Regions from separate parts of the Homo sapiens genome. Here region 2 is linked to region 1. The links come from fine-mapping of genetic effects on gene expression. A gene starts in region 1. The other region holds a variant in brackets. All regions are shown on one strand. Distances are from middle to middle.

What was found. PIP is the estimated chance that this variant, and not a neighbour inherited with it, causes the effect.
Region 2: its variant is the best candidate, but not a certain one, in a credible set for the expression of TMPRSS7 in prefrontal cortex (CommonMind, PIP 0.51).

The regions. Positions count from the first base shown.
Region 1 is chr3:112,031,521-112,036,901 of GRCh38, forward strand. It overlaps TMPRSS7 (transmembrane serine protease 7), which reads left to right and starts at 3,216. Exons shown (of 18, transcript NM_001395507.1): 1 at 3,216-3,373. The coding sequence starts at 3,326. It also overlaps the pseudogene LOC124906250.
Region 2 is chr3:112,009,137-112,014,517 of GRCh38, forward strand. TAGLN3 (transgelin 3) reads left to right here. Exons shown (of 5, transcript NM_001008272.2): 4 at 2,627-2,729; 5 at 4,274-4,749. The coding sequence ends at 4,415. Among named protein-coding and RNA genes, the nearest start is that of TAGLN3, 13 kb to the left of the region's middle. The variant G/T (reference allele first, on the strand shown) is at 2,608.

The sequences.
Region 1 (5,381 bases):
TGTGGATACACCAGTTGGAAGGTTATCTACCACTTATTCTGGATAGTTAGCTGTGGGGAGGCCCAGCTACTTGGAGCAGTGGCCCAGGCTCTGCACCACTTGGCTCCAGCAGAAGTATGGCCTGTGCCTCTGATACCATGCACTCAGGGCATGGGCGGTGGTGCAGCCTCCATGCATCTGGAAGAGCCACAGTCGAGGTAGTACCTGGACCCCGTGGACTAATCTGGGAATGTGGGTATGAGCTCTGCTGGCCGATGGAATCACCAGTTACCAGGCGGTGCCAACGACACCCTGTGGTAGGTCCTTCACACTGTTGACCCTACAGAAGCTGCCCAGCTACTCAGGGGCTGCTTCTCCTTGGAGTGGATCATTTCTCAACAATCTCTTCTCCTATACAGTAAAATTGTTTTCAGGAGGAATCATGAAATAAAACTAATAATAATATTGATGAGAAAAAAAGTGAAAAATTTTAGTCAACTTTGTATATATAATTATGCTAGCAAAAATAAAATTAACAAAATACATACTGCATACAGAATATTACATATAAAAATATTACACCTTGCAATTCATACCCTGTAACTGTATTAAATTTTAAATATAAATTAACTCATTGGTCACATAGAAGGACAAATGAAATAACTGAAATTCTGTTTCTTGGTCTTTACAATCATTGTGCTATTATTGCTTGTTTTGAACCTTCCCTTTAAATGCAGCAATATGTAATCCCACAGGGATTGCTGGAGGCAAGGACTCTGCCCTAAGTATGTGCAAATGATTCCAGACCATTAGAAGCTTACTCTTGAAATGAACATGTGTCACAGTCATCTTGTATTCTGTGGAGTCCTAATTAGGGAAAAGGAGTCGGGCTGGTGGAAGCAGGGGAAAGCAAAAAGAAGAAAGCAAATGAGCTGTAAGTCTGCCTTTCTTCATGGTCCAAGACATGTAGCCCTCCTGCACAAGTAACTCAAATAACTCACAATCTTCCTGCACCCGACTAATCACCAGACCCTTGACTGATAGAAAAATGCAAGTTAGCTCATTGTGACCTTGGCATTATCAGCACTCCACGTGGCCCTCTTGAGCACAAGCACCATCCTGTAAAATCCCGAGCCAGCCTTTGTCTCCTCGCAGCCAGCTCCTCTCTTGCTGATCTGCCTGTTGCTCTCTTGCAATGTATTTTCTTACTTTCTCTAATAAATCTACCTTTCTTTACCTACAACTGTCTTGGGAAATTCCTTTACCACCTGCACCACTGGCCCCAGATAGTTGTTACCCACAACATGTTTGAGACCAACTTTACAGTTGGGAGATTTCCAAATTAATTTCTGCATGACATTCATCACTTACTAAAAAATGAATAATAGGAATTGCTCATTATACACTTAAATAAGTATTATTCAAACAGTTGTAGTGGCAGTGATTGTTTAGAACTCATGGCAATTTTTTTTTTTTTTTTTTTTTTAGAGAGGAGTATTTTGTCACTGACATTATTTAGAATTGCTGGCATGATGATAGTGAAAAAGCAGCCTTTGGTTGGTTTTATGATTGCTTTTAAATTTGGTACATTTAACACAGCCTCCTGATATTTTGCTGCCACTTTTCACACTTGGTGGTGTGAAAGGGAAAAAAGGATGGGGGGACACTAGTTAAAGGCTGTAAAGACAGATTTTCTTCAGCACTGTTGCAACGGGAGAAAGTGAATTCGATATAGAGCTGAACTCAGTTCCAAATACAGCAAAGAAAGCTGGGGATTAGTAGTCAATGAAGAGAGTGAGGGGGTCCATGGTTGGAAAATTACTAAGGGGAAACACCAAGGGGCATCCTTGCTAAACTGACCAATCAGGATTCTTGTTACAGGCAGCCAAGGACTTACATATCAAGGGTAGGGGATAAAGAACTTGATCAGATATCAAGGGTATTTCAAGGCCACTCTTGAATCAAAAAAAAAAAAAAAAAAAAAAAGAAAGAAAGAAAGAAAGAAAAGAAAAAGAAAGCAAAATCAAGGGTGATCAGATATCAAGGCGGGGGGATTCCTGCTAAACTGACCAGATGGGCCAAAGACAAGGCCCAAGGACAAGGTCTAGTTGAAAAGAGAGCTCAGAGTAACCTGACAACACTTTGGTCAAGAAGAGAGTCTTTGTCAATGGCCACCGATAAGTATACAAATTTTACTTATATTGGTGAAATATGAGTTAGTTCTAGAAATAGGTAGAGAAATAATACTGGAAAGATGAGCCATTAAAAGTAATATTATAAAGTCTAAACCATTATTAATAATTTCATCAATGTGAATAATAAATAACAAAACCCAAGAGGCGAATTTGTACATGACTTAATTCTTTTTTTTTTTTTTTTTTTTTTTTTGTTATTCTGTCTCATCTTCCCCAAGTTAGATCAAATTTCAGGTATGAAGCAACTCAACTAATCTTTCCCCACTTTCAGCAGGCAGTTTCTCACTTGCCATATGCACAGCCCGTGAATGATGCTGAAGTTTGTGTCTGGATCAGCAGAACAGTGTTTCTCCTTTAAAGCGTGACAGATCAGCTTTCTGTTGACACCCAGTGCCCACAGGGTGATGAGGTTCCAGCAATCCCTGCCTTTTTCTCCCCGTCTGCTAAGAGAAATTCTGACACTGCCCCTCAGGATTGGATTATTCTTCCCACCATGGATCTAATTCAGATTGACATTGGGAAGTATGGGAGAGATGGAAACAGGGGCTTTACAGCAGAAAGGGCCCCAGGTTTACTGAGGACTGACTGCAAGAAGTAGGGGGAGCTAAATGGAAAAAAGTCCCTTTGGATTATGAGTTCTCAGAGAGTATGGCTGGAGAGTTGAGAGCAGGACTGAAGAGTGAGTCTCCTGGAGCAGGCAAGAGATGCCACGCAAGAGAAATGAGGTGTGAGGACTTCTCAGATGTGGTGCTGAGGGTTGTAAATTAGACCTCTTCATATTCTTTAGGAGATGCAAGAAAAAAATTATAATGATTTTTAAATGTTACTGGATTGTAGGATTGTGTTTCTTATAAGAAAACCTTGCCTTGAGGCTGGCTGTACTCTGAGAGGCCTGACTCCTATGAAAGTTACATTGAGAATCCTTGAGTTTGGGGTGCAAAGCTGAGTGCTAGGTCCCTTTAACATTTACAATATAGCAATGAGGCGGCTTCAGTTTCTGAACTGAACCCGGTGGAGGTAAATTGATTCCACTCCTCTGAAAGCTAGCTTGAATGCGGTGACGGTTCTCTCAATTCTTCTCAAGAGAGCATATAAGGGGCAAAAACTGGCTTTGAGACACCCCTGGATGATCACACACAAAACGCCTAATAATGGACAAAGAAAACAGCGATGTTTCAGCCGCACCTGCTGACCTGAAAGTAAGTACAGGGTGAGAAACTTTCTCTTACTTGAATGCCATTTATTGTTGACCCTGTTAGTAAAATGAGATTGTATGACCTTATAAACATAAAGGAAACAATAATAAAATATTTTATCTTCTTATGGTAATTAATGGGTTTTACAAATGTGAGCTTATTATAAAGTGCTGTACTTGGCAATTGATTTGTAGCCGTTTTTCTAAAACTCCAGGGAAATTGTACTGATCTCTACACAAATTCCATTTTAAAATTTAATCAGTGCTAACTGAGACTGCCTATAATGTGTTTCTGCACTTAAAAGATCCAAACTTGGCTTTGTCAGTTCAACATGTACTGGCATTTCTGCGTGTTTCTTTATTTCTTTTGGGGGAGCACTTGAAAGTAGCTTGATACCATCGACAACTCATTCTACAATGGAATGTTTCTCTCTTTAGAAACCCAGTCCTCATTCCTGCAGGACACCACATTAAATGATGTCTGGTCTAGTTCAATTTCACCAGAAAGGATACAAGCAACACTTCACTCCAGGGGTTGACAAGGTGTTTGGCAAAAAGAATGAAGGGGCCATGAATAATTCAGAGTGTACGTGGCCACGTATTATCCCATTAATTGGCAAGATTAAAGACTGGAGGGCATGAATTTTGAAGAGAAGAGTGAGGGAGAGGAAAAGAGAAGGAGAGAACTCTTAAGGACAGTGCAAAAGAGAGATTATTTCTTTGGCATTGGCATTCCATATTGTTGCCTTTAAAAGAATGTGTGGTTAAAAGCTATTTCGTCTCTGGAGTTTAGTTACCCTGACTTGTATAAATCTCTCCTTAAATGAAGCTAAACTCTTGAATACATTATTAAAGAATTCACAGCATCAAATAGCAGAGGGTAGACAAGAAAATAAAAGAGGAGGAAGGGAAACAATTAAATAATGTATTTTTTACTCTTGCACATAACACTATGCACATCAATACACTTAAACCAACAATTTTCTAATCTAATGAGTGTTCTATTTCATTCTTCCATTTACTTTTAAATAATTATTTCATTTATAATTGAGAAACTGTGGCTGGCAATGGCAGCGGCTGGCAATGGCAAAACAAACATATTTAATTCCTATAAACCCACAACCCTACAACCGTATGTAAACACACATGCTTTACGAACAATTTGTGCAGTTACAAATTGCACAAATTTGTACAATCTATGCAAATTATCATATCACCTTTACTTTTCCTTCCTACCACCCAGTCATGAAGCTGTAACTAGGAAATCAATTCATTTCTGTGGGGAACTCACTTATCTTCTTATTTTCAATCCTGCATCAGCCCAGAAATAATTGATTGTGAGAGAAAAACAATATAATACAAACATGTGAAACACACACATATACTAAAAGGACTGTGGACAGGCATAGTGGCTCACACCTGGAATCCCAGCACTTTGGGAGGCCAAGGTGGGTGGATCACCTGAGGTCAAGAGTTCAAGACCAACCTGACCAACATGGTGAAACCGCATCTCTACTACAAATACAGAATTAGCCAGGTGTGGTGGTGAGTGCCTGTAATCCCAGCTACTTGGGATGCTGAGGCAGGGGAATCGCTGGAACCCATGAGGCAGAGGTTGCAGTGAGCCAAGATCACTCCATTGCACTCCAGCCTGGTCAATAAGAGCAAAACTCTGTCAAAAAAAAAAAAAGGAGGGGGGAGGGGCTGTGTACACACATGATTCTACCCACATAGAATCTTAACCTTAACCTCCTAACCTTCAAGTCCTCTAATCTACTTTACCCCATGAAATTCAGGCCTCTCCTCCACAGCATCTATTCAACAGAGTTGGAGAGTTGAGGAAAGAACCTAGAAACTGTTGCGGGAAGTCAGCGACCCTGAATGGAGGGAATTGCTGAAGCCATGGCAGAAGAACATAAATTGTGAAGATTTCACGGACATTTATTGGTTCCCTAAATTAATACTTTCATAATTTCTTACGCCTGTCTTTACTGCAGTCTCTGAACATAAAT
Region 2 (5,381 bases), 22 kb before region 1:
TCTGCCCTCACGACCCAAACACCTCCTACTAAGCCCACCTCCCACATTGGAGGTCACGTTTCGACATGAGATTTGGAGAGGACAAAACATCCAAATGATATCACTTGGCCAGAACATCAGTAGTGAGGCCCTAACTGCTTTTCTTTGTTTCAGTCTTGTTTGGATGAAGACATGGAGAAACCTAGACAAAAACACTCAAAGACTTATGGGCATTGAGGTTGGTGCCCTTGATTCTACAGGGCCTGAAATCTGTGCTCCAGTTTTATTCCCCTCAGTGTCCCCTCTGGCCTGGCACAAAACAGTCATCATGACCCTTTCAGATCATCCCTGATCGCTGGTTCCTACTGAGGAATGTGCTCCTCATCCAGCCTGCAATGGGGTGCCATGGGAGATGGCAGAGTGGCATGGTGGATTGTTCAAGGGCTTTACATTCAGACAGGTCTGATCTAGAGCTGGGCTCTGTTAACTGATTGGGTGACTCTGGGCATGTTAATTAACCTCTTTGAAATAGTTTTCTCGTCCACACATGAGGAGGAATAATCCCAATTCCATGAGGTTGAGATGACATATACAGTGTCTACCCTATAATTTACATCAAATATCTTGCTTTGGAAAGTTTCTTAAGGAAAAAATTCCAATTTCTTCCTGTCAAATAATGCCCGCTTCCCTAGTGGCTTCTTTCTCAAGTGTAATCACTTCCTTTTCCACTCTCCTGGGATGAGGGTGGAGTTGTGTTGATAGTTCTAGGCTCCTGGATATCTTATCTTAGCCGGCAACTTAGTTCCCTTTGTCCTCTCTGGGTTCATGTAGTAGTCTATATAAGAAGTGTTATATATAACACTTACATATAAGTGTTAGTTCTTATAAGTTCTTATATATAGTCTTATATATAAGAAGTGTTATATAGACTACTACATGAACCCAGAAAGGACAAAGGGAACTAAGTAGGGAACTAAGTGTTGGGAATTTTCTAGATGCAGGGATACCAGGGATGAACTAGCTACTTTGAAGGAGTCTAGTTCTATAGTTTAATAAAACTTTGCTTCTTCATCCGTTGCTCCAGGGTAGTGTCTGTGGGTGATCTGCTGGATGTCAGGCCCCACATTTTCCCAGATCCTGGACATATCAGAATAGCTCTTTCCAACCACCAGAAACAAGTATCCAGGGTGCTCTTTGTAAACAGTAGAGATGAGTGATATACCCTAACCTAAGCCTTCCTTTGCTCATTTATTTCTCTAGGTTCCCTTTAATAGTTCACTGCCTAAGAGCAAGTCCTCTCCCTATCTCTTCACAGAATGAACCTTCAGAATATCATTACTACATTTATATTTTTTAAAAAGTGTCCCATTATATGGTGACAATTACAGAAATGCTTTCACCTGTGGAAGAGTCATTCTAACAACAACTTCTGTGTTTCTTCTTAGTTCTGAATATTCCTTATGCCTTCTCCCTTCTGTCTGCTTCTGAAATACTTCATTCTCCACCACCCCAGTTATTCCTTGAGTCTGGGGGACTATCCATTGACAGCATTTTATCCTTGTATTCACCAACCAGTCCCACAGGGCCTCAGGATTCAGGCAATCACCCTGTGGTTAACATGGGAGGTGGGGGTAGAGGGGAGAGAGGATCAGCTTTCTGTCTCTCCTCTTCGAATAAATGAAGATCCTGAGCTGGACTTCCTCTGAAGGCCTTAATTGTTTATTTTATTACAGTTCATACTCCATTCTCACTTTCCATCTGCCTTTCCCCTGTAATTCTGTATTCCCCAGAGACTGAGCTGCAGCAGCTGGGCCAAAAAACTGCAGACGGTTCACCAGGTCTAAAGAGAGCCTTAATATTTGCCCTTAACTTTCACAGTTCCCCGCCAGGTTAGATGCTGCCTTCCCTTTTAACCCTATGCTTTTTAGCTTTTGTATTCCACACTGGTGCCTTGCATGGACTTTTGGTCTGATTCTAAATTGCAGGCCACCCCCTCAGTAGCATCTTCTCAGTTTAGGACAGGTCAGTCAACTGGAAGAGAAGAAAGGAGAAAGAATGGGAGGAAAGGCTGAGTTGTAAGGCCCAGTTGCTTTCTCCATGGGTTAATGGTCACTGGGCTGCTTAGGTAACAGGGCTCCCCATCCCACTGTGCAGGGGCCACACTGCACATCCCTCTCCCTTGCTCTCCTCTCTGTCACACACAAGCCAGTTGTTTATTGTCTCCATTTAGCTGTTTTCAAGCGGCACAAAATAAAGGCCCTATCACTTGTGTCACATTGAGTGCTTTCTGTGTTGATTTGCTGTTCTTCATTTGCCAGGCCTCTGGCCCAAAGAGCAAAGTGAATACTCAATTTGATGCACATGGATGATTTTATTTATACAGCAACTATGAACGGATTAGAAACTTGGTATCTCTGGTATGTACCATATAGAGAATAATTAACCAGGTTACTTTTTGTTCCTTTCTGAGAAGTTTGGGTATGGTTGTCTTAGGGCCACTTTGGGAGGTGTTTGATAGCACTGCTCCCTTGAATCTGGTCACCTGCAGCCTTCTATCAGAACTTCCCTCCTGGGTGTCCAGCCGTATCCTTCCAGCATTCCTTGGCTCTGACACGTGCTTGGCTTTAA[G/T]CTCTTTGTTGGCTTCCAGGGAAGGACATGGCAGCTGTGCAGAGGACCCTGATGGCTTTAGGCAGCGTTGCAGTCACCAAGGATGATGGCTGCTATCGGGGAGAGCCATCCTGGTTTCACAGGTAAAAGCCTCTTCCTTGCCCCCTGGACCACAAGGCGATTTTAACCAGAGGGAGGGTCTGAAGCCTTGGAACTCTACAGAGGCTTTATGTGCAAAGCCCCAGGACCAAGCACTGCTGTCTCCACAACTGAGTTCCCCAAAGCAATGAAAGACTGATGCTTCTGTACAGGCCAGTAACCTAACCAGAGCAGAAATGGTTGGGCCTTTTCTACCAGATACCTCCCAGCTCCACCCAGGTTCTGTTTCTCCTGAGGCTCAGCAGGACTGGATGGCCTTTCTTGAAGGTGGCTTCATGTCTGAACTTGGCTTTATTATGACTTAAGCCAGCTCTGAGCTTTCTTGCCTGCCTGGCTGCTTCCCTCCCTCCCTCCCTCCCTCCCTCCCTCCCTCCCTTCCTTCCTTCCTTCCTTCCTCCTTCCCTCCCTCCCTCCCTCCTTCCTTCCTTCTTTTTTGTTTGTGTACTTAATAAAGGGTAAATATGTCATGTTTGTTTGGAACAGTCATGGTTAATATCTATGTTGTCCCAGTATATCTATTAATAGAACTCTCTTTCACTCTCAACAGCGTCCTAGTCCGGATGACAAATTATATGGTTATCTCTCAGTAAAGGGTCTTTTTTTAAAATGATTTTTTTTTCAGGGGGTAGGGTAGGCAGGAAGCTTAAACTGGGTAATTTAGTTGTAGAAGAGTGCCCTGTGGCAAATAATTGATTATTCATTTCCAGCATCCCCTTTTCTTCTCCTTGACAGTTATTAAAAAAAAAAAAGTTACCAGCTTATGTCATTTTAAAGAACACTCGCCCTGAAAACTTCTGAGAGGTTGGCCATTTGAAACCCTGGTTTTAGTGTCTGTATTATTAGTGAACTACCGTGTTCCCATGTGGCTACACAACCACAATTATGTACTATCTGGCTCTTTACCAAAGTTTGCAGACCTCTAATCTAGAGTGCGACATTTCCCCTCATTAACTCTTAGGTCCCTTGGCTCTAAAAGGGTATATTCATCTTGGCCCTATACAGGGAAAGGGGGAATGGGATTAATGATGTGCTTTGTAAGAAGAACCAATTTTAATTTTCACAAAGGCTTGACGTAGCTGTGAGAGAAAGGGTAAGAAGAAGCAGGCTTCTTCTTAGAAGTCTGAGATGGCCTAAAGTGGTGGGGGAAGAAGGGAGAGTGGGGAGAAAGAGAAACAAGAAAAGCTGAGAGTGAATTCCCCAGAGAGGTAGCCACTGATTCTGCCCTACTCTTTGCTGGAATTCTGGAAAACACCTGGGCTTCTAAAAGATAGGGAGCTCATGCATCATGGTAGGGCCACAGCTCAGGCTAGGGCCAGAGATAGCTCAGAGTAGCGCCACGGCTCAGGGTAGGTCCACAGTGCAGGGTAGGGCCATAGCTCAGAGTAGGGCCATAGCTCATAACCACAGCTCAGGGTAGGACCTGCTGATCTATTTGGGGACCCCCAGCAGAGCCTGTCTAATTGCATATCTTGAAAAGGATTGGAAAACTGTCATAATGACATTATTCCCTCTCACTTTCCTTGTCCAGGAAAGCCCAGCAGAATCGGAGAGGCTTTTCCGAGGAGCAGCTTCGCCAGGGACAGAACGTAATAGGCCTGCAGATGGGCAGCAACAAGGGAGCCTCCCAGGCGGGCATGACAGGGTACGGGATGCCCAGGCAGATCATGTAGGACGCGGCATCCTGCCCCTGGTAGAGAGGACGAATGTTCCACACCATGGTCTCTACGAAAAAGAAATAGTTAGTCACCTTCTGACCTTCTCCTCTTTCTCAAAGCCTTCTGTCCCTGGTTTTTGCAAGTGCTGCATTTCCGCCGAGAATCCGCGTTGCCTACTGCTGCCACCTCCTGTTCATTTAGAACTATGCAAAGACTCCGCTTCCGTTTTCCTGAGCTCCTCGGGCCCCAGAGTCTCTGTTTGATTATTTATTTATTTATTTATTTATTTGCCAAAAATTCTCCTCTTCAACTTATAGAATGCACCTAATAAAGTAATTAGTCTTGTGTCTTACAGTGTAAAGTTCATTCTTTCTCTTAAGGACTCCACAGTCCGGACTGGTTTCTCTTCCATTCAAAGGCCAGAAAGATGGAATTAAGCTTAAGCTGCAGCTGAGCAATATAGGTTAGCTATGAGGACGCTCTTGCAAGATTATCGCGTTTATCTTGGCAATTGGAATAGAAAGTTTAGGAGTCATTTCGCCCACTCTGAGAGCCTAGAGACATAAGTTCAAGAACAAAGTCTTTGACCACAACAAGTTTTTGAGCATGTACTTTGTGCTTATTGTGCTAGACCTGTAGAGGACACAGCCCGGGAGACAAAGCCCGGTTTCTTGAGAAGCTCTTGTATAGGTGCCCAGGAAGTATCTGTTGAATGGATGGAAGGAAGAATGGATGGGTGGATGGTTTTATTGAATGGATGGGTGGGTAGATGACTGGATGAATGAGCAGTTTTCACTTCTCTAGCATTCATCTTCCTCTTACAGACGAGACCCTAGGTCCGATGCTGACATTTATACAGTTTTTTTCATCATCCAGGAGTTATAGACAATGTAGTTTGCTCTCCTAAAGTCATTTAAAGGGTCTAAACCCTGAAAACCCTAGGATATTGCCTGGTATTGCGATTTGCCTAAGATGAATAGG